7 linked regions of the Homo sapiens genome follow. The protein of the gene in region 3 purifies or fractionates together with the protein of the main gene of each other region. This does not show direct contact. Each region holds a gene or a part of one and is shown on either strand. Other genes may lie near its edges. The genes, in order: RNPC3, UTP23, ZCRB1, FARS2, PURA, LARP1 and STAU2.

Evidence for each region.
Region 1: the proteins of ZCRB1 (region 3) and RNPC3 purify together in Homo sapiens (affinity purification with mass spectrometry; 2 studies listed by BioGRID and IntAct, with this or other methods). This does not show direct contact.
Region 2: the proteins of ZCRB1 (region 3) and UTP23 purify together in Homo sapiens (co-immunoprecipitation; 3 studies listed by BioGRID and IntAct, with this or other methods). This does not show direct contact.
Region 4: the proteins of ZCRB1 (region 3) and FARS2 purify together in Homo sapiens (co-immunoprecipitation; 3 studies listed by BioGRID and IntAct, with this or other methods). This does not show direct contact.
Region 5: the proteins of ZCRB1 (region 3) and PURA purify together in Homo sapiens (affinity purification with mass spectrometry; 2 studies listed by BioGRID and IntAct, with this or other methods). This does not show direct contact.
Region 6: the proteins of ZCRB1 (region 3) and LARP1 purify together in Homo sapiens (affinity purification with mass spectrometry; 2 studies listed by BioGRID and IntAct, with this or other methods). This does not show direct contact.
Region 7: the proteins of ZCRB1 (region 3) and STAU2 purify together in Homo sapiens (affinity purification with mass spectrometry; 2 studies listed by BioGRID and IntAct, with this or other methods). This does not show direct contact.

Annotation. Positions count from the first base shown.
Region 1 is NC_000001.11:103,538,690-103,543,149, forward strand, and holds part of RNPC3 (RNA-binding region-containing protein 3), read left to right. Parts: intron 1-2,660; coding exon 2,661-2,786; intron 2,787-4,460. UniProt on the Homo sapiens protein: Participates in pre-mRNA U12-dependent splicing, performed by the minor spliceosome which removes U12-type introns. U12-type introns comprises less than 1% of all non-coding sequences. Binds to the 3'-stem-loop of m(7)G-capped U12 snRNA.
Region 2 is NC_000008.11:116,769,278-116,773,067, forward strand, and holds part of UTP23 (rRNA-processing protein UTP23 homolog), read left to right. Parts: intron 1-914; coding exon 915-1,089; intron 1,090-2,178; coding exon 2,179-2,565; 3' UTR 2,566-3,790. UniProt on the Homo sapiens protein: Involved in rRNA-processing and ribosome biogenesis.
Region 3 is NC_000012.12:42,311,096-42,314,310, reverse strand, and holds the end of ZCRB1 (zinc finger CCHC-type and RNA-binding motif-containing protein 1), read left to right. Parts: intron 1-324; coding exon 325-437; intron 438-545; coding exon 546-621; intron 622-1,112; coding exon 1,113-1,244; 3' UTR 1,245-2,225; downstream 2,226-3,215.
Region 4 is NC_000006.12:5,544,144-5,548,603, forward strand, and holds part of FARS2 (phenylalanine--tRNA ligase, mitochondrial), read left to right. Parts: intron 1-1,036; coding exon 1,037-1,197; intron 1,198-4,460. UniProt on the Homo sapiens protein: Is responsible for the charging of tRNA(Phe) with phenylalanine in mitochondrial translation.
Region 5 is NC_000005.10:140,120,415-140,124,874, forward strand, and holds part of PURA (transcriptional activator protein Pur-alpha), read left to right. Parts: 3' UTR 1-4,460. UniProt on the Homo sapiens protein: This is a probable transcription activator that specifically binds the purine-rich single strand of the PUR element located upstream of the MYC gene. May play a role in the initiation of DNA replication and in recombination.
Region 6 is NC_000005.10:154,792,700-154,797,159, forward strand, and holds part of LARP1 (la-related protein 1), read left to right. Parts: coding exon 1-97; intron 98-895; coding exon 896-1,024; intron 1,025-1,100; coding exon 1,101-1,301; intron 1,302-1,400; coding exon 1,401-1,563; intron 1,564-2,475; coding exon 2,476-2,620; intron 2,621-4,460. UniProt on the Homo sapiens protein: RNA-binding protein that regulates the translation of specific target mRNA species downstream of the mTORC1 complex, in function of growth signals and nutrient availability.
Region 7 is NC_000008.11:73,424,634-73,429,093, forward strand, and holds part of STAU2 (double-stranded RNA-binding protein Staufen homolog 2), read right to left. Parts: intron 1-4,460. UniProt on the Homo sapiens protein: RNA-binding protein required for the microtubule-dependent transport of neuronal RNA from the cell body to the dendrite.

The sequences.
Region 1 (4,460 bases), on a different chromosome or scaffold from region 3:
GACCATGTTCATGTTTTGACAGATGCTTATTCTTCTGGACTCTACTTACCTCAGAATAATTTCTAGAGTAATTCTTTAGGATTTCATACAAAACTATAATTAGTAACTACTGCAGATGAATTATTCTTTTTATTGATAGTTCTTGACAATCTATGCATTTTATTTAAGGATTCTGACATAGAATAGTACATTGTTAATAATGGTCATGTATATAATCCACAGCCTGGCTCAGAACAGGAATTGCCAAACTGTTTCTTTATAGGTCCAAAGAGTAAATATTTTTGACTTTGAGAGTCATGTGGTCTCTGTTGTGGCTACTCAGTTCTACCCTTGTAGTAGGAAAGCATCCATAGATAGTATACCTAATGAGTTGGTGTGGCCTTATTCCAACTAGACTTTAATTACAAAAACAGGCAGCTAGCTGGATTTGGTCATTGAGCTGTAGTTTGTCAACCCCTGTCTGCAGGACTCTAATGGGAAAATGATCAAAATCTTAGGTGACTGTGCACGGAAGAAGTGGTATATAGGAGGTGTGAGTGGTTGGCATGAGGCAGAACCCAAGCAGACTCTGAGCAACATATACAAATAATCGCAATTTGACTGAGTCAGTGTCCACCCAAGTAGTGGTACAATGTGCAGTATATTATCTTTCTAAGGGAAGAGTTAAAATCAAAGCATAGGTGGGGCTGAAACTATAAAATGGGAGTGAATACACTATCTGTCTTAAAAAGAGACATTTAGGGAAACAGGCAGTGCCTGATAGATGGTTACTTTAACTTGTTGAGTGTTAACTGCGGACTAATTACTTAACCTCTGTGAACTTCACTTTCTTTATAAAAATAATGATAGTAATTAGAAATGCTACAGTAACCTGGCCAAACCCTTTTTTGTTTGTTTACTTAGGTTTCCATTAAAGGATGTAGTGAGGAATTCTGCCAGTAATTCATCTTGAGTCCTGAGAGAGAACATAGCCTTTGAGTGTACCAAGCTCTAGTTTCATGCTTCTCTTTTATCTTCAGGAAATGTAACAAGACCTAAACAAAAGAAAAATGGTACAGGTTGAGTATCTCTAAACTAAATCTGAAATCCAAAATGCTTCAGACTCTGTAATTTTTTGAGTACCAGTATGATACCACATATGGCTGGCTTAGTGACACCTTTGCTTGTTTTCTTTCTTTCTTTTTTCTTTTTAAGACAGGGTCTTACTCTTTCGCCCTAACTGGAGTGCAGTGGTACAGTCATGGCTTACTGCATATTCAACCTCCCGGGCTCAAGCAATCTGCCCGCATCAGTCCCAGTAGCTGGGACTAAAGGCATGTGCTACCACACCTGGTTAATATAATATTTTTCATATTTTTGTAGAGATAGGGTTTCACCATGTTGCACAGGCTGGTCTCAAAATCCTGGGCTCAAGTGACCCGCCCTCCTTGGCCTCCCAAAGTGCTGGGATTATAGGCGTGAGCCACCATGTCCAGCCAACACTTTTGCTTTCTGATGTTTCCATGTACACAAACTTTATTTCATGTACAAAATTATTAAGAATATTGTATAAAATTATCTTCAGTCTTTTGTGTATAAGTTGTATATGAAACTTAAATGAATTTCGTGTTTAAATTTGTGTCTCATCCCCAAGAGATCTCACGTATATGCAAATATTACAAAACTGGTATACTTCTGGTTCCAGCCATTTTGGATAAGGGGTGCTCAACCTGTACTATTCATTTATTCAGCCAATAATTACTGAATATATGCCTAGCACTCTTGTAGAGGCTTGGTGTACTTTGGGTCAGCAATTTATAAATATGGACATATACTTTGAATAACTAAATTTTTTCATAAAGTTTTTGGTAAACCATGGTTTTTTAAAAGGGTTTAAATTACAGCATATGTTTTCATTTTTCCTCAGGGAAAAAAGGTTTAAAGCTTATTTGAACAATGCCCTCCTTCCTCTCTTTTGTATTTTGTTGTGTGTGTATTTTACAAATACCACCCTGAGAAGTAGAGCTGGGACTAGCGGTTTCCAAGTTCCTGCTCTGTAGATGATACAGAAATGCCTAGACAAGATCTATCTTTAATATTAAATATTCATATTCTTAATAGAGAAAAGCTATGTACAGGTGTTGTCACTTCCTGAAACTACTTCAGAGCATAGTACAGTATTTGAAAACAGTTCTCAGGTAATTTAAGTTACCTTATTTATATAATGATTTGCAACAGTTATTCACAAAATGCTTTTAAATGACATATTTCAGTCCAGGCTCCGTTTAATAATTAGAATATGAATAAAAATGATTTAAGAACATTAATATTATATCGATTTTATTATTGTATCTTGTTCAGCCGTTTGGCATGAAGTCCAGCCATTTTATTTCGGCAACTGCTTATGATGAAACATACATTTTAAAAATTGATAATATGTAATTAAGTCTATTTTTAATTTTTTCTAAGTAAGATGAAAGCTAAGCAAGGCAATTTAGTATTTGAGCTTTTATCAAATTGATTATCTCTTAATTGATGGTGTTCTATATATTTGATGTAAGTAAATCATTTTATAATTTAAATTATACACCAAAATACAAATTTAACGTTAATAGAAACAGTGGTAAATAGCTATGCTTCTAGAAAGGAAATTTTGTTTATCATCCCTCTCCTCATTGTAGAATGAACAAATTAATGGAACTAGCAAATCTTCAGCCCAAAAGACCTAAAACAATAAAGCAGCGCCATGTGAGAAAAAAGAGAAAAATAAAGGATATGTTGAATACACCTTTGTGTCCTTCACACAGGTAATTTTATTTGAACTAAGAAATGAGGGTTGTCTGTATGTACTTTGTTTACTTGCTTAATTCACATCATTCTTCATTCTGGCATTTGTTTCCTGTCAGTGTTCTTGGTTTACATTGGCTTCCTAGTTACCAAATTTACAAATATTCATAATTCTCTCACAGTTGACCACTACTCTCTTCTCTGTCGTAAGCCTTAAGGTATTTGCTTCCAGCTTCCTGTCTGCAGACTCAGAATATCTTATAGGCACTTAAGATATTGTCGAAAACAAAATTCATTTACTTTCCTTTTATCATTTCTTTTCTCTTTCTCCTCGTGCATTTACAGTTTTGTTAGTGACATTACTGTCACTAGTGTAATATATTAGTGAATAATGTCACTAATATAAACATCAGTGTGTTTATATACAGTTATTTAGTTTCTCTTAACTCCATCACCTGATATCAAACATTTTTTACTTAAAAAGTACCCAGCAGATAAAAATTCACATATCTTTACTTGGCACACAGGACTAACCCGAGTGCCTTTAAGTATTTATTGAGTGTATGGTAAGGTTTTCTGCTAAATATTGTGTGTAGTTTGAAGCATGCTTTTAAAGTTTAATGCTGTCTTTTCAAACAGTGAGTTAATAGTCTTAAGTATAATAAGCCAAATGCACAGATGATTATTGCATTAGCAATTATAATACATGACATAGGAAATATAAACTAAGAACTAAAAGGTTGTGAGAAAAGAGAGGTCACAGCCAGTTGAGAAATTTGAAAAGGTTGTAAGAGAGAGGAGATATTTGAGCTGGCCCTTTAAGGAGGGGAGACAAAAATTAGGCAGGGAAACTGTATCCTATGTGAGTGGAAGAATAAAAGGAAAGTTTCCAGAGGTAGGAAAATGTATTGAATAGGAATAGAAATGATGAAAGGGAAAGCTAGAAGGATGTGAAACCTCCCCTAAATGTTAGGCGATGGAGTTTGAATTTATTGAAGAAGCCATTGGAATGCCATTGATATTTTTAAAAATTAAGAATTCCTTTTGCACTACTTTATCTTGTAATAAACTTCCTAAATAATTTGCAGATTTGGGATAAGGGTCAGACCGTAGTTATCCAAGAATGTTAGTAGATATACCTTACCTTTCCACTGTGTTTTGGACATTTTGTTATAGTCCAGAAGTTGCCAGTAAAATGATACTTGTTTTATACATGTTTGATTTGGAGTATTTTACCTTTTTTTCCCTTTGAATCTTTATAGTGACACTGAACAGTAGAAATTAATGTGAGCCACATTAAAATTGTATGAAAACATAATGTAAAATATCTTGATAACTTTTTATATTGATTATATGCTGAAATAATATTTTGGATATAATGAGAAATAATACGTTATATTATCAATATTTCATCTGTTTCTTTTCATGGTTTTAATGTGACTATTGACAATTTTAAGTCATCAAAGTCTAATATTATATAGATATGTTTAAAATATCAAACATAGAATGCACTGTTTTGCATATTAATAAATATCCTGGTGTTTAGAATCAAGAGTCATCAAATCCCTTCTCTGTCATTTACAGAATGACCTTATACAAATTATTGACATCGCTGAACCTCGGTCTTTTTATGTGTAAACTAATAATTTAGTAGTACCTATATTAGAGCATTAAAGTTTATTAAACTAATAAGT
Region 2 (3,790 bases), on a different chromosome or scaffold from region 3:
ACCTGGGAGAGGAAAGGCAGGAACCCAAGGGTTCTCCAAAGAAACGCTACGTTACTGAGATAGATAGGTTGAGCAGCTGATGGCATAGGAGTATGGGTGAAGAAGGGCAGGAAGGTCAAATGTGATTTCTGATTTCTATCTAGGGTGTCTGGGAAAATAGTAATTTCAAAGAGATAGCAAGTCTTGGAGGATAAATTTGGATACAGGAAAGTGGTTTGATCTTAGACATGGTGAATTTGAAGAGTTGATAGCAGGACATCCACAGGCTGGCAGTACTCAAAATAGAGGTCAAGTCTAATGACTAAAGCAAGCAAAATCTTCTTGAAACAGAAAGATGATAAAGGAGATGAAGCAAGAAAGAATCTGGCAAATGCTGGCTAGGGTTGAGGAACTCTTATGACTAAATGTTTTTTTAAAAACAACTTGATGATGTGAGAAGTTTTACTGTTCTGAATTGAAAATGTTTTGAAAGTATACCAATTTGTACTTGAAGCAGAAGCTTATTACGCTATGGTTGGGACAAGGGAGCTGTTGTCAAACTGCAAGTCTCGGTACCACTTGCTAGTTACTTGAACTTTGGCATGTTACTTGAAATCTCAGAATGGGGTGCTCTAAAATAAGGATAATTTCAAGGTAAGCGACCTAACTTCATAGGGTTACTTTGAGATTAATCAAGAATTTATGTAAAGAGCAATTTGCATACTACATGGAACATAATAAGTGCTCAGTTAATTTTAACTGTTGTTCTTCCTACTTGGTAAATGCATTTTTCAAGTGATCTTTTAAAGTAAATGGTTACCAGATGACAAATTTAGATTGTAACAGCATAGTTTTATTTTAAGAAAAAATCGACTATTGTTTTTTACACCTTATGTAAACAAGTGAAATGTATCTGCTATAATTTTTCTTTTCAGATGTGTGTTAAAAGAGCTAGAAACATTGGGAAAGGACTTATATGGGGCAAAACTGATTGCACAAAAATGCCAAGTTCGAAATTGTCCTCATTTCAAGAATGCAGTGAGTGGATCAGAATGTCTGCTTTCCATGGTTGAAGAGGGAAATCCTCATCATTATTTTGTGGCAACACAGGTGATACTACTTTTAAAACCACAGGCAATTTTCACCATTTCTATTTATACTTCATATGGAGCTATTTATAATCAGAAAAAAGTTAGAATGATTAGACTTTTAAAAATACAGGCTTCTAAGTTAATTTGCAGTCAGTAAAAGCAATTGTCATTTGAGAATTTGAGGAAAACTTTAAGCATGTTGATATTCTTTTTAGTAGTGGAAGGTTGGGTTTTGTTTTTTTTAATGATTCCTTTGTTTTGCTTTTTTTGTTTGTTTCTTGAGACTTGAGGGTCTCACTATATTGCCTAGGCTGGTCTCGAACCCCTAGGCTAAAGTGATCCTTCCACCTCAGCTCCTGAGTACCTGGGATTACAGGTGTTTGCCATCATGCTGGACACTGGCAGAAGTTTCTTTTTTTAAAACAAGAAATTGTTGACATGAGATGTGATGATTTGTTGTAGGGTTCTTGAAGGGAAGATAAGTAGAGCAAAGTGCCTGTATTCTGTTAATTTTTTTCATGTTCCTGTATTTCATACTGTTTCTCAAAGTCATGGTTCATACTGCTTAAGACTGTACCAACAGTATGAAATATTTCAGGCTTTTGAAGAAAAATATTCCCATCTTCTTGAAGGCAGGAGAAGAGAGACTTTTGGGGGTGATATTAAGTTCACATACATACAGATTTGATTATCAGAATTATAAAATTACACAGAGGTAGAGCTGAATTTAGAATCTGAGTAGCTAATTACTACCCAGTTTCTTTTCCTTTAACCTCTTTAAGCATTCTTGACCCTTTCCAAAGAATATCTTAGAGTGGAAACAGGAGAAACCCACCTAACACATTTACCTTTGCATTAGTTTGTAATTTGTGGCTCTAGAGTATCGATAAATCCGGTTCACACAGCTGCTACTAACACTGTGCTCAGTTTTTATGTTTTTCTTCCTTTATCATGAAATATACCCCCATTACTCAAATGAATAAGTGAGGCTTACTCATTTGAAAAATAAAATCTGTGATCTCTTTTATTTTTAATACAGTTCTTGAAAACCTATTTAAGGTACCTTAATTGACATTTGAACTAAATAATTCTGTTTTCTTTTAAATAGGATCAGAATTTGTCTGTGAAAGTAAAAAAGAAGCCTGGAGTTCCTCTCATGTTTATTATTCAGAACACTATGGTTTTGGACAAACCTTCTCCCAAAACAATTGCCTTTGTAAAAGCAGTGGAGTCAGGTCAGCTTGTCTCAGTGCATGAGAAAGAAAGTATCAAACATCTCAAAGAGGAACAGGGTTTAGTGAAAAACACTGAACAGAGTAGAAGAAAAAAGCGCAAGAAAATAAGTGGTCCCAATCCTCTTAGTTGTTTGAAGAAAAAGAAAAAGGCACCGGACACACAATCATCTGCTTCTGAAAAGAAAAGAAAAAGAAAAAGAATTCGGAACAGATCTAACCCAAAAGTACTTTCTGAGAAGCAGAATGCAGAAGGAGAATGAATCCTTTGGATACTTTCAAGGACATTCAAATGTGAAAATGAATTTTTTACAACTAGAAGTATTTATAATAAAAGACCAAACTTATTTTTGTAAATGAACCCATATGCTTTAGCTAAAATTAATTATAAAATAAAAACAGTGACCAGTCTAGCCAGCATGGCAAAACCCCATCTCTACTAAAATACAAAAATTAGCTGGGCATGATGGTGCACAGTTGTAATTCCAGCTACTCAGGAGGCTGAGGCATGAGAATCGCTTGAACCTGGGAGGCAGAGATTGCAGTGAGCCCAGTTCGTGTCACTTCACTCCAGCCTGGGCAACAGAGTGAGAACATGTCTCAAAAAAAAAATAAAAACAGTGAATGGGTGTAGGTGTGATGGAATTCACTTTACTTACTAAATGGTTTCGGGAGGTTGTTTCTCCAGGTAAAATTGTCGCCTCTCTGGTCCCATTCCCACCTTCAAACATTATATGCAAACAGTTTTAAAAAATCTTACAGTTCTAAAAGGCTTGTGACAAAAAAAGAGGCAGTCCCTCTTTCACATTGACAGAAGAAACTTCCTCTTTCAATTCTAGTAGTTGAAGAATTTATATTTCCAAATTGTATGATTATACCGCTACTTTTTGATACATCAATTATTTATTGACTTCCTACTAGAAAGAGTGAAATTTTGCCCATTTATACTGCACCATTTTTCCAGTATATGAATATTTTACTCTTTGTACATCAGAAACTCAGTATTTTCATTATTATGACTAGAGTTTTTTTGTTTGTTTGTTTGAGTTCTACTTGTCCAATAAGGATGATGATTTTCTTTTAGATGTAAATGTTAACTTCAATAGCAAGAATTCAAAAATAATATTCTCTTTGAGATTGACTGTGAATGTTATTGAAAAGTGTCTAAATTAGTCTGAGGATCAATGAGGGTCAATTCAGTTAGGAATTGAATAATGAAACGTGTCTCTCTGAATTCCCCCGGCAATTGTTTTAGTCATTTATCAGGCCAAAATTAAAATGTTTTTGTACTACAAGATGGAAGTATAAAATTATTGGACAAGTGAAATCGTATCAGTAGTTCCTGACTGACAGCTTCTGGAGCCACACTAGAGCAGTGATTCTCAGTCTAACATTAGGTTATCATGATGACGTATGAGTAAATTCTTAATGGTTAAATGTGAGACAGTTCACATTTATTCCCATAGAAATGTCATTCTCATTTGAATT
Region 3 (3,215 bases):
TAGGATTACAGGCGTGAGCCACCGCGCCCGACCAAACTGTTTTATATCTTGAATTTTGAGATTTAAATGTTTGAAAGAAGACTACTACCACTACTCTTAGTAAAACTACTAAATAGTCCTAAATGTTAAAATAACTGAGAGTTATAATATCACCTTCTAAATATTAAAGTACTGGGTTTTATCATTAATGTCTTCTGTATAGTCCCAGTATGGGAATATTCCTTTTTAAATTTGAAAACTTTTTAGTAATAAGGTACCAGGCAAGTTTTTATAAATAACATCAAATATGGTATTTTTCCTTTCCTTTTTAATGGGAAACAAAAGGAAAGTGGACACTTAAGTTATGCCTGTCCGAAAAATATGCTCGGAGAACGTGAGCCTCCAAAGAAGAAAGAAAAAAAGAAAAAAAAGAAAGCTCCTGAACCAGAAGAAGAAATGTATGTATATTATTCTTACTAAATACATCATCATGTTGCTTTTGTCTTTTGGTTGGTTGCTTTTGATTATTGGTTGGTTACATTCCAATTTGTTTTTCTTTATTTAAGTGAGGAAGTAGAAGAAAGTGAAGATGAAGGGGAGGATCCTGCTCTTGACAGCCTCAGTCAGGCCATAGCATTCCAGGTATTAAATTGTTCTTTTAAAAGGCATCATACAATAGTTGACTTGGTTTATAGTGCTTGCTTACTTCATTGATCACCTCATGGCAACCTCTCTTTTTCCCCCTAACCTCCTAAGCCTTAGGAGACAAGCTGTTTCTCTGAGGTACTTAGCCAGTGTGAATGAAAAGTTCCCATTGGTTCTTCCTAGATTTTAAGGGCCCCACAACACTTACTATCTTAATCTTTTTTCATTAAAGAAATGAGCAGAACTATTTGCTCAAAGTGAATATAGCCCAACAGAAAAGATTTTTTTAAGAAATTGCCTAGGATAATTTTGTGTAAGATTTTGAGATGAGACAGAACTCAGGGGAAGGGAGCAGATCTTATTGTCTGCATGGACTGGGAGGGTGGGAAGTAATGGCATTTGTGGTATGTTTTTGCCATGTTTTGAATTAATGAACCATAAATAATATTAAACAGGTTATTGGTTTTGTTTTGTTTTTTGAATCACAGCAAGCCAAAATTGAAGAAGAACAAAAAAAATGGAAACCCAGTTCAGGAGTCCCCTCAACATCAGATGATTCAAGACGCCCAAGGATAAAGAAAAGCACATATTTCAGTGATGAGGAAGAACTTAGTGATTAAAATCTTGCCCCAGCACAGTAATAAAAATCAAGATTTGTTAGTAACAATCTTGAAGAGCTAATTTTAATAAAAATAAGAAAAATTAATACTATCATGTTAATACTATTATTGTCATCCCAAGAAAAAAGATATTTTAAAAATTTATTTGAAAAGTTCATTATAAGGGCTTTATTCATGCCTGATTTGTTTACATGAGGACTTCTGAAATTAATCCTTAAAACAAACTTCCTGAAGACCGAAAAGTTGAATGATTTATTGTTACTTATATTAATAAACTTTTCAAGAGAATTTTGTCTTTAAATATGGGTGTTTTGTCATCATATTTCTTGTAGCTTTATCCCAATCTGGATAAATTGTAAATACCTATAAAATAAATTATAAATACCTATAAAATATAAAGTAACATAGCTCTAAAAGGCTTAAAATCAAACACAGGTGTTATTTGTCTGCCCTACCCATAGCACCAAATTCCATTCCCTAGAAGAAACTACTTACATGTGCACACATGTAGCTAAATAAAGTACATATATTTCAGTCACTTAATAAAAGAATAAAGGAGAATTATTCAATCTCTTATACTTCTCCTACCTTCCTCAATATTCCCAATGTGGCTGTATTAAAAATTTGGGGGAATCCATATATATCTTTTTTAATAACCAAGTAAATACTTTTCATTTCTGAGCCAAGGAATATGCTATGATTACGTTTTTTCCTAGAGTTAATAATTGTCTATTTTTTTTCCATGTATTGTCTTTGTATTTATGACTAAATCTTCCCATTCTGTCTGCAGGTGGGTATATGGTAATGGGATTAGAGAGCCTTTAATTTTCTGCTTTGTATATTTCTATATTGTTTAACTTTGTAAGAATGCCCATTACTTTTTTAACTAGTAAAAGCAATAGAAATAAGTTAATACTATCATAGTAATATTATTATTGTCATCCCAAGAAAAAATATATTAAAAAGATATTTGAAATTTCATTATAAAATCTTGTGTTTCCACTTTGAAAACTACAAAGTGTTAACCACCCACCAGCAAAGAATCTTCCAGATTGCAACAAGACAATGATTGAATGCAGTACTCAACCATCTGTTTGGCCATTAGTCAAATACCACAACAGTTTTGGTTTGTTTTTTTTTTTTAATTTTTATTCATTTATTTATTTTTGAAACGAAGTCTCACTCTGTCGTCCAGGCTGGAGTACAGTGGTGCGATCTCAGCTCACTGCAACCTCCACCTCCCCGGTTCAGACCATTTTCCTGCCTCAGCCTCCTAAGTAGCTGGGATTACAGGCACGTGCCACCACACCCAGCTAATTTTTGTATTTTTTTAGTAGAGTTGGGGGTTTCACCATGTTGGTCAGGCTAGTCTCAAACTCCTGACCTTGTGATCCACCCGCCTCGGCCTCCCAAAGTGCTGGGATTACAGGCATGAGCCACTGTGCCCGGCCTACCATTTTAAAGCAAATAATTGGGAAAAGATTTGCCACAAATATATAAAAGTTTCTATGAATACCTGAAAACAGACTCTAATAGGAAATAAATTAGTGACAAATAGAATAGTTAGAAGATAAAATAGGCCAGGTGTAGTGGCTCATACCTGTAATCCCAACACGTTGGGAGGTCAAGACAGGAGGAGTGTTCGAGGCCAGGAGTTTGAGCCCAGCCTGGGGAACATAAGGAGACTGTCTTTACAAAAAATAACATTAGCCACTCACACCTGTTGTCCTAGCTACTTGGGAGGCTGAGGCGGGACAGCCTGGGAAACAGCATGATCCTGTCTTTAAAAAAAAAAAGTAAAAAAGTTTATCATTACTTATTAAGGAAATCTATTACAACCAGTGATACATCAATTTTAACCTAATTAGGAAAAAAACACTTCAGTGTTGGTGAGGATGGCATTAAAAGCACTTGTGGTATCGCATACATGCCCTGGATCAATTCTGAAGGGTAATTTAACAATAAATATCA
Region 4 (4,460 bases), on a different chromosome or scaffold from region 3:
GCTGGTGCCTCTCTGAGCTCCTTTAGGACTTCTCAAGGGCCCGAGCCATGTGGCCTCTTCACAGCCAGGAGGTGGATCTCTCTCCAATCGGCCAAGATGGAGTCCTAGATAAAAAGTAAAGCAGTCACAGGCTTAAATTCCCATTGTGTTCCTAGATCCCACCCATACTCAACGGGAGGAGTTTACACAAGGCATGTGCATGCGGGGTGGGAGTCTCCGAGGCCATCTCAGCCTACCACAGGATCCTACTCATCTGTTAGTGTCCAGTTGGAATTATATCCTTTCATGAGCTCATTTCATAAGCTTTCCTGCAGTGTGAACTGCTCCTTTGCCTGCCTTCATTCTGCAGTTTCTATCTTCCCTTTTACACTGCCTCAGTTTGTGAAGTAAACCCTTCTAATTTATGGCACTGACACAATCTGAGCAGGACACTGTACCTTTGGAGTAGGTGGTGCTAGTTATACCCCTCGTCTGGGCCTGCTTGTGTTCTCTGCAATGCTGAAGTGGCTGTTGGTAAGAATAAGCATTATGGTGTTTAATAAAACTGAGGTTCTTAAAGGCATGACGTATGTACTTTCTTCATGTAAGTTCGTTCTAAACATGTTATGGCCACTATGGCATGTTTTGAATGTATCTCATTATCTACTACACTTAAGGACAGAGACCGTCTTTTCTTTCCACTCTGTAACCTATATTCAGTGGGCTAAATGTTTGAATCAGAGCAAGCAAAGACTACAGAAAAATCATAACTCAGTTCAGGAACCAGTGCTTCAGAAAGCCTAGAATGTAATCAGAAATGAAAGACAGTACTCCAGACAGTATGACTTCAGAATCCGTTCATGAGGGCAGTCCGGAATATGGAGATGAGAAAGCGTGGAAGATTGGGCACCCTCATGGATGTCTTTGTAGCGGCTGCCCAGTGCCTTTGCCCGCTGGTAGGCATCTAATTAGTGTCACTGATAACTGTCAGGGAGTGGTATGAACCTATCCAATCTCGATACTTTTTAAAAACAACTATTTTGTTTCCTAATCACAGCTGGTGCTCAAGACCGAATCGGCTGGGCTTTTGGCCTAGGATTAGAAAGGCTAGCCATGATCCTCTACGACATCCCTGATATCCGTCTCTTCTGGTGTGAGGACGAGCGCTTCCTGAAGCAGTTCTGTGTATCCAACATTAATCAGAAGGTGAAGTTTCAGGTAAGATGACTTGCAAGAACTGAATAGATAATAATAAAAATGGCTGTCAAGGATCGACAGGATCATGTACTTGAAAGCCACTGAATTTTATTTTATTTATTTTATTTTATTTTCATTTTACTTTAAGTTCTGGGATACATGTGCAGAACGTGCAGGTTTGTTGCATAGGTATACGTGTGCCATGGTGGTTTGCTGTGCCTATCAACCCGTCATCTAGGTTTTAAGCCCCACATGCATTAGGTATTTGTCCTAATGCTCTGCCTCCCCTTGCCTGCCACCCCGCAACAGGCCCCGGTGTGTGATGTTCCCCTCCCTGTGTCCATGTGTTCTCATTGTTCAACTCCAACTTATGAGTGAGAACATGTGGTGTCTGGTTTTCTGTTTCTCTGTTAGTTTGCTGAGAATGATGGTTTCCAGCTTCATCCATGTTTCTGCAAAGGACGTGAACTCATTCTTTTTTATGGCTGCATGAATTTTAAATAATGTGAATTTGTAAAGAAGTTCTGGCCAGGCATGGTGGCTCATGCCTTTAATCTCAGCACTTTGGGAGGCCAAGACGGGTGGATCACCTGAGGTCAAGAGTTCGAGACCAGCCTAGTCAACATGGTGAAACCCTGTCTCTACTAAAAATACAAAAATTAGCTGGGCATGGTGGCACGCACCTGTAGTCCCAGCTACTTGGGAGACTGAGGCAGGAGAATCACTTGAACCCAGGAGGCAGAGGTTGCAGTCAGCTGAGATCGTGCCATTGCACTCCAGCCTGGGCAAAAATAGCGAAACTCTGTCTCAAAAAAAAAGAAGTTCCTAAATAGAGGTCCATAAACACACAAGGGGTTCATAAACCTTCAGAAATTTTATGCAAGAGAAAAGATATTTGTCAATATTATTAGTCTAAGCAGAGAACCAATTTTGTACTTTTTTTTTTTTTTTTTTTTAGACAGAATCTCACTCTGTCGCCTGGGCTGGAGTGCGCGATCTTGGCTCACTGCAACCTGCGCCTCCTGGGTTCAAGCAATTCTCCTGCCTCAGCCTCCTGAGCAGCTGGGATTACAGGCGCCCACCACTACGCCCAGCTAATTTTGTGTATTTTTAGTAGAGACGGGGTTTCACCATGTTGGCCAGGCTGGTCTCAAACTCCTGACCTTGTGATTCGCCCGCCTTGGCCTCCCGAAGTGCTGGGATTACAGGAGTGAGCCACTGCGCCCAGCCCTCATCTAGTATCTTTTCCAACAATTCTACTCCATTCATTTTTCAGAATGAAGCTGCATATATGTTAGACCATTTGATCCTATGCCATAGAACTCTGATGAAAGGTTTTTTTAATTAACGATTTTCTTTTCCTGTGTGCTTTATTTTTGATAATTTTTATTGTCTTCTCTTTGGGTTGCTCATCTTTTTTTTTTTCCTGTTTTGTCCAAGTAACCATTAAGCCCATCCAGTGAATTAATCATTCCCCAGATAACTGTATTTATCAATTCTAGAATTTGCATTTGCTTCCTTTTTAGAGTTTTCATTTATCTACTGAAATGCTTGATTTTTTCATCCATTTCATCCATTCTTCCTTAAATTCTTTCACATATTCATAATGGTTATTTTATTTTATTTTATTTTATTTTATTTATTTATTTTGAGACGGAGACTTGCTCTGTTCCCCAGGCTGGAGTGCAATGGCATGATCTCAGCTCACTGCAACCTCTGCCTCCTGGATTCAAGCAATTCTCCCACCTCAGCCTCCCGAGTAGCTGGGATTACAGGCATACACTGCCATGCCTGGCTAACTTTTGTATTTTTAGTAGATACAGGGTTTCACCATGTTGGCCAGGCTGGTCTCAAACTCCTGACCTCAGGTGATCTGCCCATCTTGGCCTCCCGAAGTGCTGGGATTACAGGTATGAACCACTGCGCCCGGCCTCATAATGGTTATTTTAAAGTACTTGTCTGTTAATTCCAACCATTTGATTATCTAGTGTTCTTTTGTTGTGGTTGTTTTCCCTTCCTAATCATGGCTTACATATTTCCTGCTGCTTCACTTGTCTTTTTGTTTTTTTTTTAATTGTGTTTGAATGGACAAAGACTGAGGTAGATAAAATTTATCCCCAGAAAGTCTTATGCTTTCTACCTTCTGGCTGCTAAGGTGACTAGGCCAGATCTTTTTGTTCTAATCAGGAGTTGAGTTGAATTTCACATCTGCTTTCCTCTTGATGGTGAGATCTAGCCCTGCAGCAGAGTTTGGGATCTAACCATGTGAGATCACAGGATCTCTTTCTGCTTTCCATCCACTTACCAGCTTCTTCCACCACCAGCGTTTGTAAGCAGAAATATTATGAAGGAGAATTGGCTGGCAGTGAGGGTTAGCTCTGTTTCTCCATTTTCCAATCTGCCATGCCAGCCCATGCTTGGCTGACGCAAGTGTGGCTCATTCTTCTTATTCCAACAAAATGTCTTTGCCAGTAGCAGGCTAGCTCTTCTGCCTACTCACGCCCCAGTGGCGACAGCAGCCATCAGTGTCTGTCTACCCTAGAAGGGCTCATCTCTCTCTGGAGTTATACTTATTTATATTTGTGTACAGACCTTTTCAACTGTATTAGTCCATTTTCATGCTGCTGATAAAGATATACCCCAGACTGGGAAGAAAAAGAGGTTTAATTGGACGTACAGTTCCACATGGCTGGGGAGGCCTCAGAATCATGGCGGTGGGCGAAAGGCACTTCTTACATGGCAGCAGCAAGAGAAAATGATGAAGAAGCAAAATCAGAAACCCCTGATAAACCCATCAGATCTTGTGAGACTTAATCACTATCACGAGAATAGCACAGGAAAGACCGGCCCCTGTGATTCCATTACCTCCACCTGAGTTGCTCCCACAACATGTGGGAATTCTGGGAGATACAATTGAAGTTGAGATTTGGGCGGGGACACAGCCAAACCATATCATCAACTTTAAGGACAGGTATGATTTTTATGAGTGTATTTTGTTATTGTTATAGTGAAGCACACTGATTTTGTGTGTGTGCCCATCTGCATCTTGAACCTTTCTATGTATATATGCATATATTTTTGGTTTTACCTTATGAGGACTTTTAAAAACTTCTACTTGAATAATTATCTGTTTTATTTTAGCATCAATTTCCTTGTAGACTAATTTGAAATAAAGCTGTATCTAATTTACAATAAAACCTGGCTAGGGCTGTAACTTTTTCTCATTCTCTTTTTAATATATTGTCAGTTATTTAATCAGCAAACATTTAAAGAACACCAACATC
Region 5 (4,460 bases), on a different chromosome or scaffold from region 3:
AACCAAATTTTGGCCATTCATAAGTATGCTATAAAACTAAAGTGATCACTGCTATTCACGAATTATTATAGAATCTTCTTTGCAGATTTTGTGATATATTAAGAAAAGCTGATTTTAATATTAATATTTAAGAAGTTATTTGATCCTGAAAACCTAAATTTAAGGTATAGGCCATTTGACACGTCCTTTTTGAACAGAAATTTCATTACAGGCTAAGTGAAAATAAGCCAGAATTAGCATGAGTCAGGTAGAATTTCATGATAAAAGAACAACCAGATGAAATAAGAAATAATGATTGGTTTCAAGCCAATGAATCTGCTAAGCTAACTACCAAGTTTTGATGTTGAATGGTCCAGGCAATTTATGTCTTTAGGAAAGCTGAGTGTGGCAAAGGTCACTTGTTAACATTTTTCTTAACAAGAATGTCATAACTACTCATTCATTTTTATTTTGTCCCCACGTTTGGTATTTGTTTTGTTTTGTGTTTTTCCTTCCTGATGTCCTTTGCTTTTGTGGAAGATTGTCCTGTTGATAGGCAGAAACATGGTGGTGATCCTCTATGTAAAATATAGTTGCTTCTTACACATCAGAAGTATTTCACTCATTTTGGAATCACAGGATTTTCATGTTTTCATAAATACACACATTGTTTTGATAATTATTAGCAATTAGCTTATTTTGTAGCATTAGATGGAAAAATGTTTAAGCTAAAGAGTTTAATTTTCTTGATTTTGGTTCCACTTTAATAATTCAAGAGGCCTCCAAGTTCAAGGACCAAGTCCTTCTATTTTAGAATTGTGAAAAACATGGAAATACTCTTGTTAGTGTGTGTTTTGGTCTAAGGTAGATTATTAACACAGAAGGATCCTAGGAGGATTTAAGAAAATATGTCCTTATCGTGAAGTGGCAGTTAAAGTTATGGGACAGGTGAATTACCTATTCATCTTGACTAGCTCAAACAATGATAGCCATCAGCTAATGACTTATCAGACACATGTTGAGTTTGGGTCAAACTCCCATTCAGCTGGAGTGGATTGGCAATTTTAAATGCAGGTAGTTGGTGGTGGTACTTGACCTACCTCCTTACCATGTACATCTGGCATCTTCTCTCTCCTATCCTTTTTCTTTGTTTCTCTCTCCACTTTTACTCTTGCTGTAGGCCTACCAGTGGCACTCAAGCTTACTTCTTCAGAGAGAAGTAAAGAAATTTCTGACTCCTGCCTTAGAACATAGCTAACTGATGATCCAGAACAATTTCAGTATTATGAGGTAACTGGGCAGTTTTTTTCTGATTGCTATTTTCCCCATAGTCTTAAGCTGGCAGTTTGAAGGTATCTAAATTAATGTTAAGAAACTTGTGAACTGAAGAGAGTAAGAAGTATGTGTATTTTAGGTAAGTTACTGGGAACTGAGACTTACTGGTTTGGAAATTGGAGAGTAGGACGAGGAGAGCTGTTTAATGTGTTTGTGGATGGGGGTTTGAGAGGTATATAGAGAATGGTTTGGAAATAAAGTGAGAGGAATTTTTACTAGAGGTAGGAAAAGGTACTATGATGGAGTCCGAATGAGAGTTATTTGCTAAGGAAATGAAGTTGATCTTCACTAAGGAAGTTTCAATAAAGCCAGAGAAAATGGGTCCCTCATTGATTATGAGAAAGCTGTTAGTTACTATAGCTAGAGTTATGATAATGATCATGCATTATACAAGTCTGTTTTCATGTATAGGATGTCTGCTTTTCTGGGACAAATTAGCACAATTGTGGAATGACAGCTTTTCTGGTCAAGGCAAGTGGATGCTGGGGAGTTATTATTTTGAGGAAAAGAAAATTTCAAGCTTTTCACCATTATTCTTTTTAAACTATCAGAAATATTTATCACACATACTATCTATTTTCTTGGGCTCTTGTTACAATGTAGTTTACCTTTACTTTTCAAATGGTCCTTAGATCAAATTATTTGATTTTGTACTCCACAAAGACACATATTATTCCTTGCTTTTATAGAATTTTGAGACTTTGGCCCACACAAATTTCTTAGAAGACAATAAACCAGGTAAAAACACTAACTTGCAATTTTAGGTGTCTTTTTTATTTCTTTTACATTTGCATCCGTAGCAACCATTTAACCTTGTAGACCTTATGAGGCCCTCAATAATACTGTATTTCTAAAATTAGACAACATACCCCCCAAACTCATGTTTCTGTTTCCCTACTTTCTCTCTTACTTTAAAATTGTAGTATTCCCAAGAGTTCAGTGGTGGCAAATGTTAATAAAATAAGTTAGTACATTTTGGAGGTTCTTATATCCTTTGTAGGGTAAGCTGATAGTGTTTAGATTTCTGTTCCCATTATTCCAGTAGTGTTTTAAATTATTTAAGATAAATAATTACTGTAATGTTTGTTTTTAAGTTACATAATTCAAGTATGTTTGGATTAACTCTTTGTTGTCAAATTTAGTATGGATTTATTCCTGGTGATTTGGACAGATTACTTTGAAGTTTCATTTTACTCACATCTCTATATATTAGTGATAAAAATCTCTTTTAAAAATAGCAAAAAAGTGGTTCTGATTTTGTACTTTGAAGGTAATTTTTCTTTTTTACGAATGTCAGGTTCATTAACAATAGCAGGATTATTTTTACTATAGCTTATTTTGTAGAGTTGGCACTTTAGTATAATTTTCACATTTTATTGTGTCAGATTTTAAATTATAATAGTTATATACTATAACTCATTTAAGTCAATGCAAAGCCTTCTTAAATAGCCCCTCCCTTAGAAATTTGTTTAAAAAGAAGTGAATTCCCAAACCTGTGTCAAGAACTTGTGATTTAAATGACTGTGAGACAAGTCCTTGAAAGGCTTAAGTCTAGTCAGTGGAGATAAATGATAGCCCATTTCCATGCTGCATATAGTTGTTAGGGTTTATAAAGTTGTCAATGTGTAAAAGTGCAAAAGCAGGAAAGACTAAAGTTGCCTGTAAAATTTCTAGTTTTCATTATTTGCACTATTTATCTTTGCACTTGATTTTTTGAAAGTTAAGGCTAGTCACTTTCACTTTTGTTTCTAGTCTTTTCTAATTTCTTGCAGAATTGTGTTTTCAATATTCCACCCAAAGCAAAAATTATATGCAATTAAAAATATTTTATAAGGCCAAGAAAATATTTCTTAATGTTAGCTGTATAAAACAAAAATTTGTTCTGATAAAATTTTTAATATGGGCCTTTATTTGCCAATAAAATCCTTTGTAAATGTGAGCTTTATTAAACTGTTTAAATAGACAAAGTTAAAGCTTAGGATAGGGAATATATATGTATGTGTATATGAAATGATGTCTTCGAGTTTTAACTTCCAGCCTGAGATGGCCTAGATTTGGTGTGTTAGTTTGTTTCACTGAAGTCAGTGAGATAGGAGTCTAGCTGGGTACATGCTTAAAAAGCTGGAAGTGAAGTGGGTGGCAAGTGGCAGCTCCCTCTTTCATGTAGTTTTCCATAATGTTCATATAGTTTCCTTATGGTCTAAGTGTTACAACTGGTTTTCAAGTTGTTATATTGAATATTCCTTTTTGGAATTCAGGGTTGAATCACTTTGAGGGGGAAGGGAAGCAAGGGCAAGAGACTTTATTTTAACCAGATGCGGTCTTATGACCTCAAAGATGTGCTCTAGAAAGAAAATAACAAAAAGTGTACCTGTGAACATATTTTTTGTCTTGGTGATATTATGCAACACAGTGTTCAGAATTGCAAAAAAATTTAAAAATTGATAGTTTTATCAATGGAACAGAGAGATGTGTTTTTGGCTAAAATTATTTTTTGTAAGTTATTTGGTTATTTCATTTTATATTCCCTTTCCCATAGCTTTGTACACACCTCATACTTAAAACCAAGTGAGAGGCCTCTTTTCAGATCTGGTTTATTTTTGGAATGCCTGAGTGTGTTTCCAGATTGGGGGGGGAGAGGTGGTGTTTTACTTTTTGACATGCTCTTAGCATGTTTTGCTAGTCATTCTGGATCTTATGTTTGCAAATTCTGTTGAACATTCAGTGATGTATTTGAAATGAGAAAGTCCTTTATAACATAGTGTGAATGTTTGTGGCCAATTCAATTGTGGAATCTTATGGCTTTGTTTTTACTTTGGGTAGAAGTTTAACTTCCATTGTTCAGATTTTAGGTTTATCTAGTGAAATTGTGCCAGGTAGTTGTCTAAATATGGACCAATTTTGGGAAATGAAGATTAATAAGTGTATATTTGATTCTAGATAATCCTTTACTCAAAATCATAAGTTAAAGATTCACATCATTAAGAGTTATCTAACTTTTATGTTGTCAAATCTTTAAATGTGGATGATATTCAGCATTCTATCTATGAATTTCCTTTAGGAAAAGAGAAAAATTCAGTCTCCAAACCTTTTCTTGGAGACAAAATTTACCACATATCGAAAATGAAAAAAATTTAGAAAGCGAT
Region 6 (4,460 bases), on a different chromosome or scaffold from region 3:
AGTGATAGTAAGGAGAGTCCAAAAACCAAATCAGATGAATCAGGGGAGGAAAAGAATGGAGATGAGGATTGCCAGCGAGGCGGGCAGAAGAAGAAAGGTGAGTGACTGGGAGCAGGACTTGGGAGAAGGTGGCAGGGTAGAACTGTGAAATGTCAGGACTCCAGGGGACTGCTGGAGGAGCTTTAGGTGCCACCTCTGAAAAGTCAATGGGGAAACTGATGGATGTAGGCTGGTGAGATAGCAGTCTTCAACCATCTGTCATTAATCAGTCCCTCCTTTCAAAAAACCTGCTGAAATTTTGGCTTCTCTAATGCTGATCTAGAGTAACCATGGTTTAAACAAGATAAAACTTTCTTTCTTTGATGTAACAGCTTGGTGTAAATACACCAGGCCTGGTATGGCAACTCCTGAATCCCTTCAGCTTGCTGTGGTACACCGGTTCTTCATATCATCACTGATGGCTTCCTATTTCCTTCTTCTTCTAGCTAGGAGGAAAGGAAGAGGGAAGGGTGGCCCCTTTCCTTTTAGGGACTCAACCTGGAGTTGGTTACTTCAGCTTAGCTCTCGTAGGCAGTGTTTTGGCACCTGTCTATAGGGACTCTGGAAAGCATGGTCTTCATCCTGGGCTGCCATGTGTCTGACTCCAGAAGGGGATTCTGTGGCCATGGAGACACTGATCTTGGGAGTTAACGAGGAGTCTCTAACACACTGACGGCCACTGACCAGCTTATTTTAGAGATGAAAAAGAGGGCTAATGTGTGGGAAAGGGATCTGCCCAAGGTAACCAGATTGTGATTTGGGCCCAAGTCCAGGGCAGAAGAAGAGGAGTTGGGTAGAGCTGGCTAGGAGTGGCCTCTCCCTCAAGCCTTTCTCATGTACCCATGCTGTCTCCCAGGAAACAAACACAAGTGGGTTCCATTACAAATAGACATGAAGCCTGAAGTGCCCAGAGAGAAACTGGCTTCACGCCCCACTCGCCCACCGGAGCCTAGACACATACCTGCCAATCGCGGAGAGATCAAAGGTATGCACTACCCACTATGGAGGGCCTGGACTTGGGAGACACCCTCAGGCCTGACCTGGTACCCCTCTCCCCATAGGGTCTGAGTCTGCCACCTACGTGCCCGTGGCCCCCCCCACCCCAGCCTGGCAACCAGAGATCAAACCGGAGCCTGCCTGGCACGACCAGGATGAGACATCGAGTGTGAAGAGTGATGGGGCTGGTGGGGCGCGGGCTTCCTTCCGTGGCCGTGGACGGGGGCGTGGTCGCGGCCGGGGACGCGGCCGGGGTGGCACTCGAAGTACGTGAGGCCCCTTTGGGCTCCGGGATGTCCAAGGGTGTGCAGCAGGGGTGGTGGGCAGGAATCTCCTCTCCCTCATGGCACCCGTTTCCCCCATAGCCCATTTTGACTACCAGTTTGGCTACCGAAAGTTTGATGGTGTGGAGGGGCCTCGTACGCCCAAGTACATGAACAACATCACCTACTACTTTGACAATGTCAGCAGCACCGAGCTTTACAGTGTGGATCAGGAACTGCTCAAAGACTACATCAAGCGCCAGATGTGAGTGTGCGGAAGCCTTCTTACCCTGGAGAAATGAGTGAGAGGTTAGGGGTTGCTAGAGTGTCATAGCTGGGCAGGCCCTTCTGGTGCTTAGCAGCAGTTTCAGCCTCAGGCTGAAAAGATAGCTTTTCTCATTGTTTATTAAAGAAGTGATACCACATTCTCATTGTTTATTACAGAAGTGGTACAACATTTACCTTAAGAAAGTTAGAAACTATACCATTACAAAAAGGAAGGAAAATATTTAGAATCTACCCCCTTCTGTTCTTCCATTTGTAATGACAACATTGACAGAATACTAACATTTATTGAATCCTTAGTATCGGCCAGGCTCAGTGTTTATTGTTGTAGAGGCATTATCTTAGTCCTGCAGTTCTTATCTGTTGAATTCCTATGAGCTGAGTCTTTTAGCCCCAGTTTATAGACAAGCAAACCGGCCCAGTAATTTGCACAGAATCTCACAGCTAGTAAGTAACAAAGCACAGATTTAAATCCTTTTCTGTCCTATTATAGAACCTTTGTTCTTAACCACTCTGATATATTGTCTCTCAGTCCAGTAAGGAAGTCATACAAGAAAATAAATGGTTGCAATAGAGTGTTTATAAGTGTTTTAGGAGCAGAAGAGAAAGTGACCAACAATATTTGGACTGGAATTTAAAGGAGGATGAGGAGTTTGACAGGCATGTCGAGGGGCTTAGGGCAGAGGGAGTGATTTGACCCAAGCAAGGTAGGGTGTCATGAAGGGATCACATCATTTCTTTTCAGCCCTCAACACTGTTGGTATATAGGATAAGGATGGGGTAGGTCAGAGGCTGTGTGAGATTGCTGGGGTGTGTAGCAGAACAAGGAAGGCATACTCATAAAACTGATGCACCAATCCCTCGGTGATAACTACTTCTTCCCTCCACTTAGTGAATACTACTTCAGCGTGGACAATTTAGAGCGAGACTTCTTCCTGCGAAGGAAAATGGATGCTGATGGTTTCCTACCCATCACCCTTATTGCTTCCTTCCACCGAGTGCAGGCCCTTACCACTGACATTTCACTCATCTTTGCGGTATGTCTTCCTCCCTGGAGCTGGGATGCAGGGGAAAGAAAGGTCCTTAGGGAGCTGGAGTTTGGGCCAAGGCAGAAAGCCCTGGAAGAGTCATCATCTGATGACTTCTGCTGAAGTCTCAAGGCTTGGCTAGTCTCCTCCTCTCCCTCCTTCCTTCCTTTCTCTCCCTCTCTTGCTCATTATGGAAAATGTCAGACACTTAACAAAAGTAGAGTAGTATAATGAGCCCATCATCAGCTTCGGCAGGTATCAGTTTATGGCTAATCTTATTCCATCTGTACCCTCATCTGTTTATTCTCACATACTACATTGAAGAAAATCCTAGAAAACCTAGCATTTTGTTCACAAATATTTCAGTATAGATTTCTAAAAGATAGACTTGTTAAAAGAAAATAGCCACAGTATCATTATCATACCTAAATTAACAGTTTAACATATTAACAGTTCCTTAATATCATCAAATATTTAGTTCAGATTCATCCCAATTGGCGCCATATATATATTTATATATATATTTTATATATATTTATATATATTTTATATACATTTATATATAAAATATACATTTATATATATTTATATATTATATATTTATTATATATTTATATTTATATATTATATATTTATATATTATATATATTTTTATACATATTATATATTTATATATTATATATTTTTATATATATTATATATTTATATATTATATATATTTTTATATATATTATATATTTATATATTATATATTTATATATAGTATATATATTATATATATATTTTATATATTTATATATAGTATATATATTATATATATTTTATATATTTATATATTATATATATATTTTATGTATTTATATATTATATATATATTTTATATATATATATAGTTTGTGAGAATCAGAATCCAAATAATACCTATAGGCTGGGTGCAGTGGCTCACACCTATAATCCCTGCACTTTGGGAGGCCAAGGGGAGGGTCATGTGAGCCCAGGAGTTCAAGATTAGCCTGGGTAACATAGCAGGACCCTGTCTCTACAAAAAACTAACAAGACCTGTGTATTGTCTTATTAAGTCTCCTCTTGCCTCTATTTTTCTTTTTCTTTGCCGTTTATTATTTGAATAGACTAAGTTGTACATCCTGTAGGATTTTCCACAGGGCACAGGGATGTCATTTTAACATGTTCATCTGTACTCCAAGTTTTTTGTAAATTGTGATCTAGAGGCCTGATCAGATTCAGGTTTTGAAGTTTTTTCCCCTCCTTGTCAAGAATACTTTATCATAATGATGTATTTTCTCTCAGGTGGCACATAACATTTCATTTGATTGTCTCTCTTGTGCTATAAGCTGCCAGCAGTGTTCGTTAGGATTGCAAAATGACAATATACTAATTCTGTCAGTCGGTCTTCATTTATTAGGTGGAATACCTCTTCAAGAAGTAACTTTGCCTCATCAACTGTTCAGTTACCAAGAGGTATAGTTTGTTCAGGAAGGGCAGATTAATGTTTGATCTTCCTCCCTTTGTTAGCCAGTTTGCATAATTATGAGTTGATCTCTAATAGGTTTCATAGGTGACCAGTGAGATTTGGTGGTTTGTTTTCGTATCATTTGTTATTATAAGCTTATGGGCTCAAACGTATTTATTTTGGTCCATTGCAGTTAATGGATTGGATCAAATTGTCCCACCTTTGGTCAGTGGGACCCTATACATTTCCTGCCCCAGATCTGGAATTGGCCACTTTTAAAAGGAATTCTAGTTCCTTTCTTTTGGGAAATGGTATTTAGATACCAGTCTGAGTTATAGGGGTGCTTTATTGCTACTTGGTTGGTCATTCTTTCTAGAT
Region 7 (4,460 bases), on a different chromosome or scaffold from region 3:
GTTTTTGGCAACTATGAATAAAACTGCTATAAACATCCATATGTGGAATTTAATGTGTAATATTCATAATACTTTTTTCTTTCTTCTCTCTTGCTTTTCTATTGTTGCTTTTTAATCACAAATCCTATATCCAAGCAAAAGTCGGCATGCGTCCTTTCTTTTTCTTTAGATTACTCCTTCCTTTCAAATCTTTAAATCAGGCTTCCTAGATCAGAGGTGCTAATGTGAGTGCCCATGCAGATCTGCAGCCCTGGCCCGGGCATCCCGAAGCAGGGAGGATGTGGTGCTCAAGTCTCAGTTATCATCATAATCTCTTTGGACCTGGAGTGCTGCAGGGAGAAGGTCAGTGATGCCACCCCATAGCTCCTGATCCTGGCCCATGCTCATGCTGGACAACAGCCAGGTGGGTTTTGATGGGAGGTAGGCGCTAACTTCAGTGGGGTGGGAGCTGTGTGGCCATCTCCCTGGATACTGTTATAGGTCGAATTGTGCTCTTCCCCCAAATTCATATGTTGAAGTCCTAACCCCCAGTATCTCAGAATGGGGCCTTATAGAATGTGGCCTTATTTAAAAATAGGATTAGTACAGATGTAATTAGTTAAGATGAGGTCATACTGGAGTAGGGTAGGTCCCTGATCCAATATAACTGGTATCCTTATAAAAAGAGGAAACTGGAACACAGACCCACACAGGGAGAACGCCACGTGAAGATGGTGGTAGGGGCTGGAGTGATGCCGCAGCAGCCAAGGAACACCAAAGATTGCCAGCAAAGCACTCGAAGTGAGGAGAGGGGCCTGGGACAGATTCTCCCTCACAGCCTTCAGAAGGAACCAGCCCTGCCAGCACCTTGATCTTGAACTTCTAGCCTCCAGAACTGTGAGACAATACACTCCTGTTGATGAAGCCACTCAGTTGGTAGTACTTTACTACAGCAGCTCCAGCAAACTGTACAGGGACCTCATAGCTTCTCTTTAAGGATAGCAAAATCTCTCTCTCTCTCTCTCTTCTCTCTCTCTCCCTGTATTATTTTTTGTTATAAAAATAGTTTTTTGTTACAGAAAAGTCAGAATATATAGACAAGCAAAAAGAATGTAAAAAGTATCCACAATCCTGCTCACCATTCACATCTTGGCGCACGTCTTTCCATATCACTTGTTTTTTTTCTCTCTTTTTTTTTGAGATGGAGTCTTACTCTGTCACCCAGGCTGGAGTGCAGTGGTGTGATCTTGACTCACTGCAACCTCCACTTCCTGGGTTCAAGCAATTCTTGCACCTCAGCCTCCTGAGTAGTTGGGATTACAGGCATGAGCCACCACACCCAGCTAATGTTTGTACTTTTAGTAGAGACAGGGTTGCACCATGTTGGCCAGGCTGGTCTTGAACTCCTAGCCTCAAGTGATCCACCTGCCCCAGCCTCCCAAAGTATTGGGATTACAGGCATGCGCCTCTGCCCCCAGCCTCCATATCACTTAGTATCCTCTCCCCATGTCTACAAACTGTAGCCTGGATCATGTCTTAACACTGTAGGTAACCTGCTTTTTTTTTTTTCAATGATAAATAATAATTGTACACATTCATGGGGTGGGTAACAATGTTGCAATACACATAATGCATAGTGATCAGATCAAGGTAATTAGTACATCAATCATCTCAAACATTTATCATTTCTTTTTGTTGGGTTCATACAATATTCTCCTTCTAGCTGCTTGAAACTATAGAACATATTACTGTTAACTATAGTCTTTCTACAGTGGTATAGAGCAATAGAACTTATTCCTCATATCTAGCTATAATTTTGTATCCTTTAATAAATTTCTCCCTATCCCTCTCTTCCCCCTACCCTTCCCAACCTCTAATATCCTCTGTTCTACTTTTTACTTCTGTAAGATCAACCTTTTTAGCTTCCACACATGAGCAAGAACAAGTGGTGTTTAACTTTCTGTGCCCTGCTCATTTCACTTCACATTCGCCCAGTTTCATCCACATGGCCATAAATGACAGGATTTCATTCTTTTTTTACGGCCGAGTAGTATTCCATTGTATACATATACCATGGTTTTTTGTCCGTTCATCTGTTGTGTGCTCTTTTCATTGAATGTGTGCAGTATCAACAGAAACATTTCGGTAGCATCATTTCTCATGACTGCACAGTATCCTATCGATATCCTGTGTGATACCAACACTGCATCAAATTTCCTATTGGTTCAATCTTTATGCATCATCTCAATACTTTCCTTATGATAAATTCCTAAAATTGCATTTCTGAGCCAAAGATGATGTCCATTTTTAAAGATTTTTTTTTTTTTTTTTTTGAGACAGAGTTTTGCTCTTGTTGCCCAGGCTGGAGTGCAATGGCGTGAACTCGGCCCACCACAACCTCTGCCTCCCGGGTTCAAGCGATTCTCCTGCCTCAGCCTCCCGAGTAGCTGGGATTACAGGCATGCACCACCACGCCAGATTACTTTTGTGTTTTTAGTAGAGATGGGGTTTCTCCATGTTGGTCAGGCTGGTCTCGAACTCCCGACCTCAGGTGACCCGCCTGCCTCAGCCTCCCAAAGTGCTAGGATTACATGCGTGAGCCACTGTGCCCAGCCTTAAAGATGTTAATATGAGCTCTCTATCCACCCTTGGAGAGGTTGTGCCGGCAGCAGCAGTGGGAGGAGGGTGTTACTCTAGGTGCTTCTGGAATTACCTCTCAGAACCATTTTGTGGGTCAGAGAAGCAAACCAGTTTTGTCATCTTTTGGCCCCACCTTATTTTAATGTGTTCATCCTGGTTGTTGACCTTCTTCACTAGACTTGGCTTTGTCTGAAGTTTTGCTGTTTTCAAAAATTAAACTCACCCTCAAAAGACTGAGGTTTGGACAGTTCTCCCCACCCTCCCTGCAAGAAAGGAATTCACAGAGGAATTTGACTCTCAGGGAGCTTTGATTCAGTGACTCTGAGGTCCTTTTAAGTCCTGAAGTGCTAAGGCGGCTATGCTGAGGGCAGTGCATGTGCCCACAGCCTGTGTCCATCAACCGGGGCCCACTGTCCCACCTCACACATGCGCGTGGGGCGCTAAAGGCCAGGCTCACTCACTTGTAGGCTCCAAGGACCAATCCATGCCAGACCTTTTTCCAGATATTCCCATTTTCACGGAGTGGGCTCATGAACTTCAAGTTCTTTGTATATTCAACAGTTTTAACAAAAGACCAGTTACTTTTCTTCTGAGCCATTAAAATGTGAATTATTGGCATAAATTCTGAAATTTATGAATTTCTTCCAAAGTGGACAATTACATTTGAAATTTTATTATTTTTTGTAACATAATGATAAATTATTTAACATTTTCTGTGATGACAACACCTGAAATATACTCTCAGAGCAATATCAAAATGTGCAGTACTCAACTGTTAGCTATATTCACCACACTGTGCAGTAGATGTCCAAAAAAATCAAACTTATCCTTTTTATCTGACTGAGACTTTGTACCCTTTGACTATCATTTTCCCATTCCACCTACCCCCAGCCTCTGTACCCACCACTGTACTCTCTGCTTCTGGGAGTTCAATTGTTTTATATCTCACATATAAATGAGAACATGTGGGATTTGTCTATGTTTGGCATATTTCACTTAGCATAATGTTCTCCAATTCTATCCATGTTGTTGCAAATGACATAATTTCTTCCTTTTTAAAAGCTGAACATATTCCATTGTGTCTATATACCACATTTTCTTTTTCCATTCATCCATTAATGGACATTTAGGTTGATCCCACATCTTTGCTATTGTGAATACTGTTGCAATAAACATGAGGGTGCAGATATCTCTTGACACACAAATTTCAAACTTTTTAGGTAAATACCCAGATGTGACAGTGCTGGATCCCAAAAGCACCATCACAGAGGGCTACTGAGAGCCAGGAAATGGAACTGTGCAATGTGATACTGCTGAATGGGGTTCCTACGAGCTCTAGGGCTTCTCGGTCCTGTTTTATTCCTAGCAAGGGCAAAACAACAACTAAAAACAATTTTTAAAAATCTTTTAAAAAATCGTTTTTAGGCTACTTATAGCCTGTTTTCACTAGGTACACTGGGAATACTTGGTTCTTAGTGTGGCCTGAACACCAGAACCAAATGACCTGCTTCACCCAGTCCAGGACCCATGGCACCTGCTCTCTTCCATCTGAAGAGAACTGCATATATGAGACGAAGGCCAGGTCTCAGGGAGCAGCTTCAGCGTTTTAGCTCTTGCAAAATCTCCTGGACGATTTTATCAACATGCCAGGCAGGTCCCCCGTGCACTGTCAAAATGATCGTCATCCCTCCAAGAATGTCCTAGAGTCTGGAATGGCGGCGTGCTCTCTCACTTGATGCCACGAATGGATTTTCAGAATTCTTGCGTGGCTGCTCTCCTCCACAGGTATGCTTAAAAGCTTCCAAGGGGCAGTCCCTTATCTACCTGATCAGATAACTCAA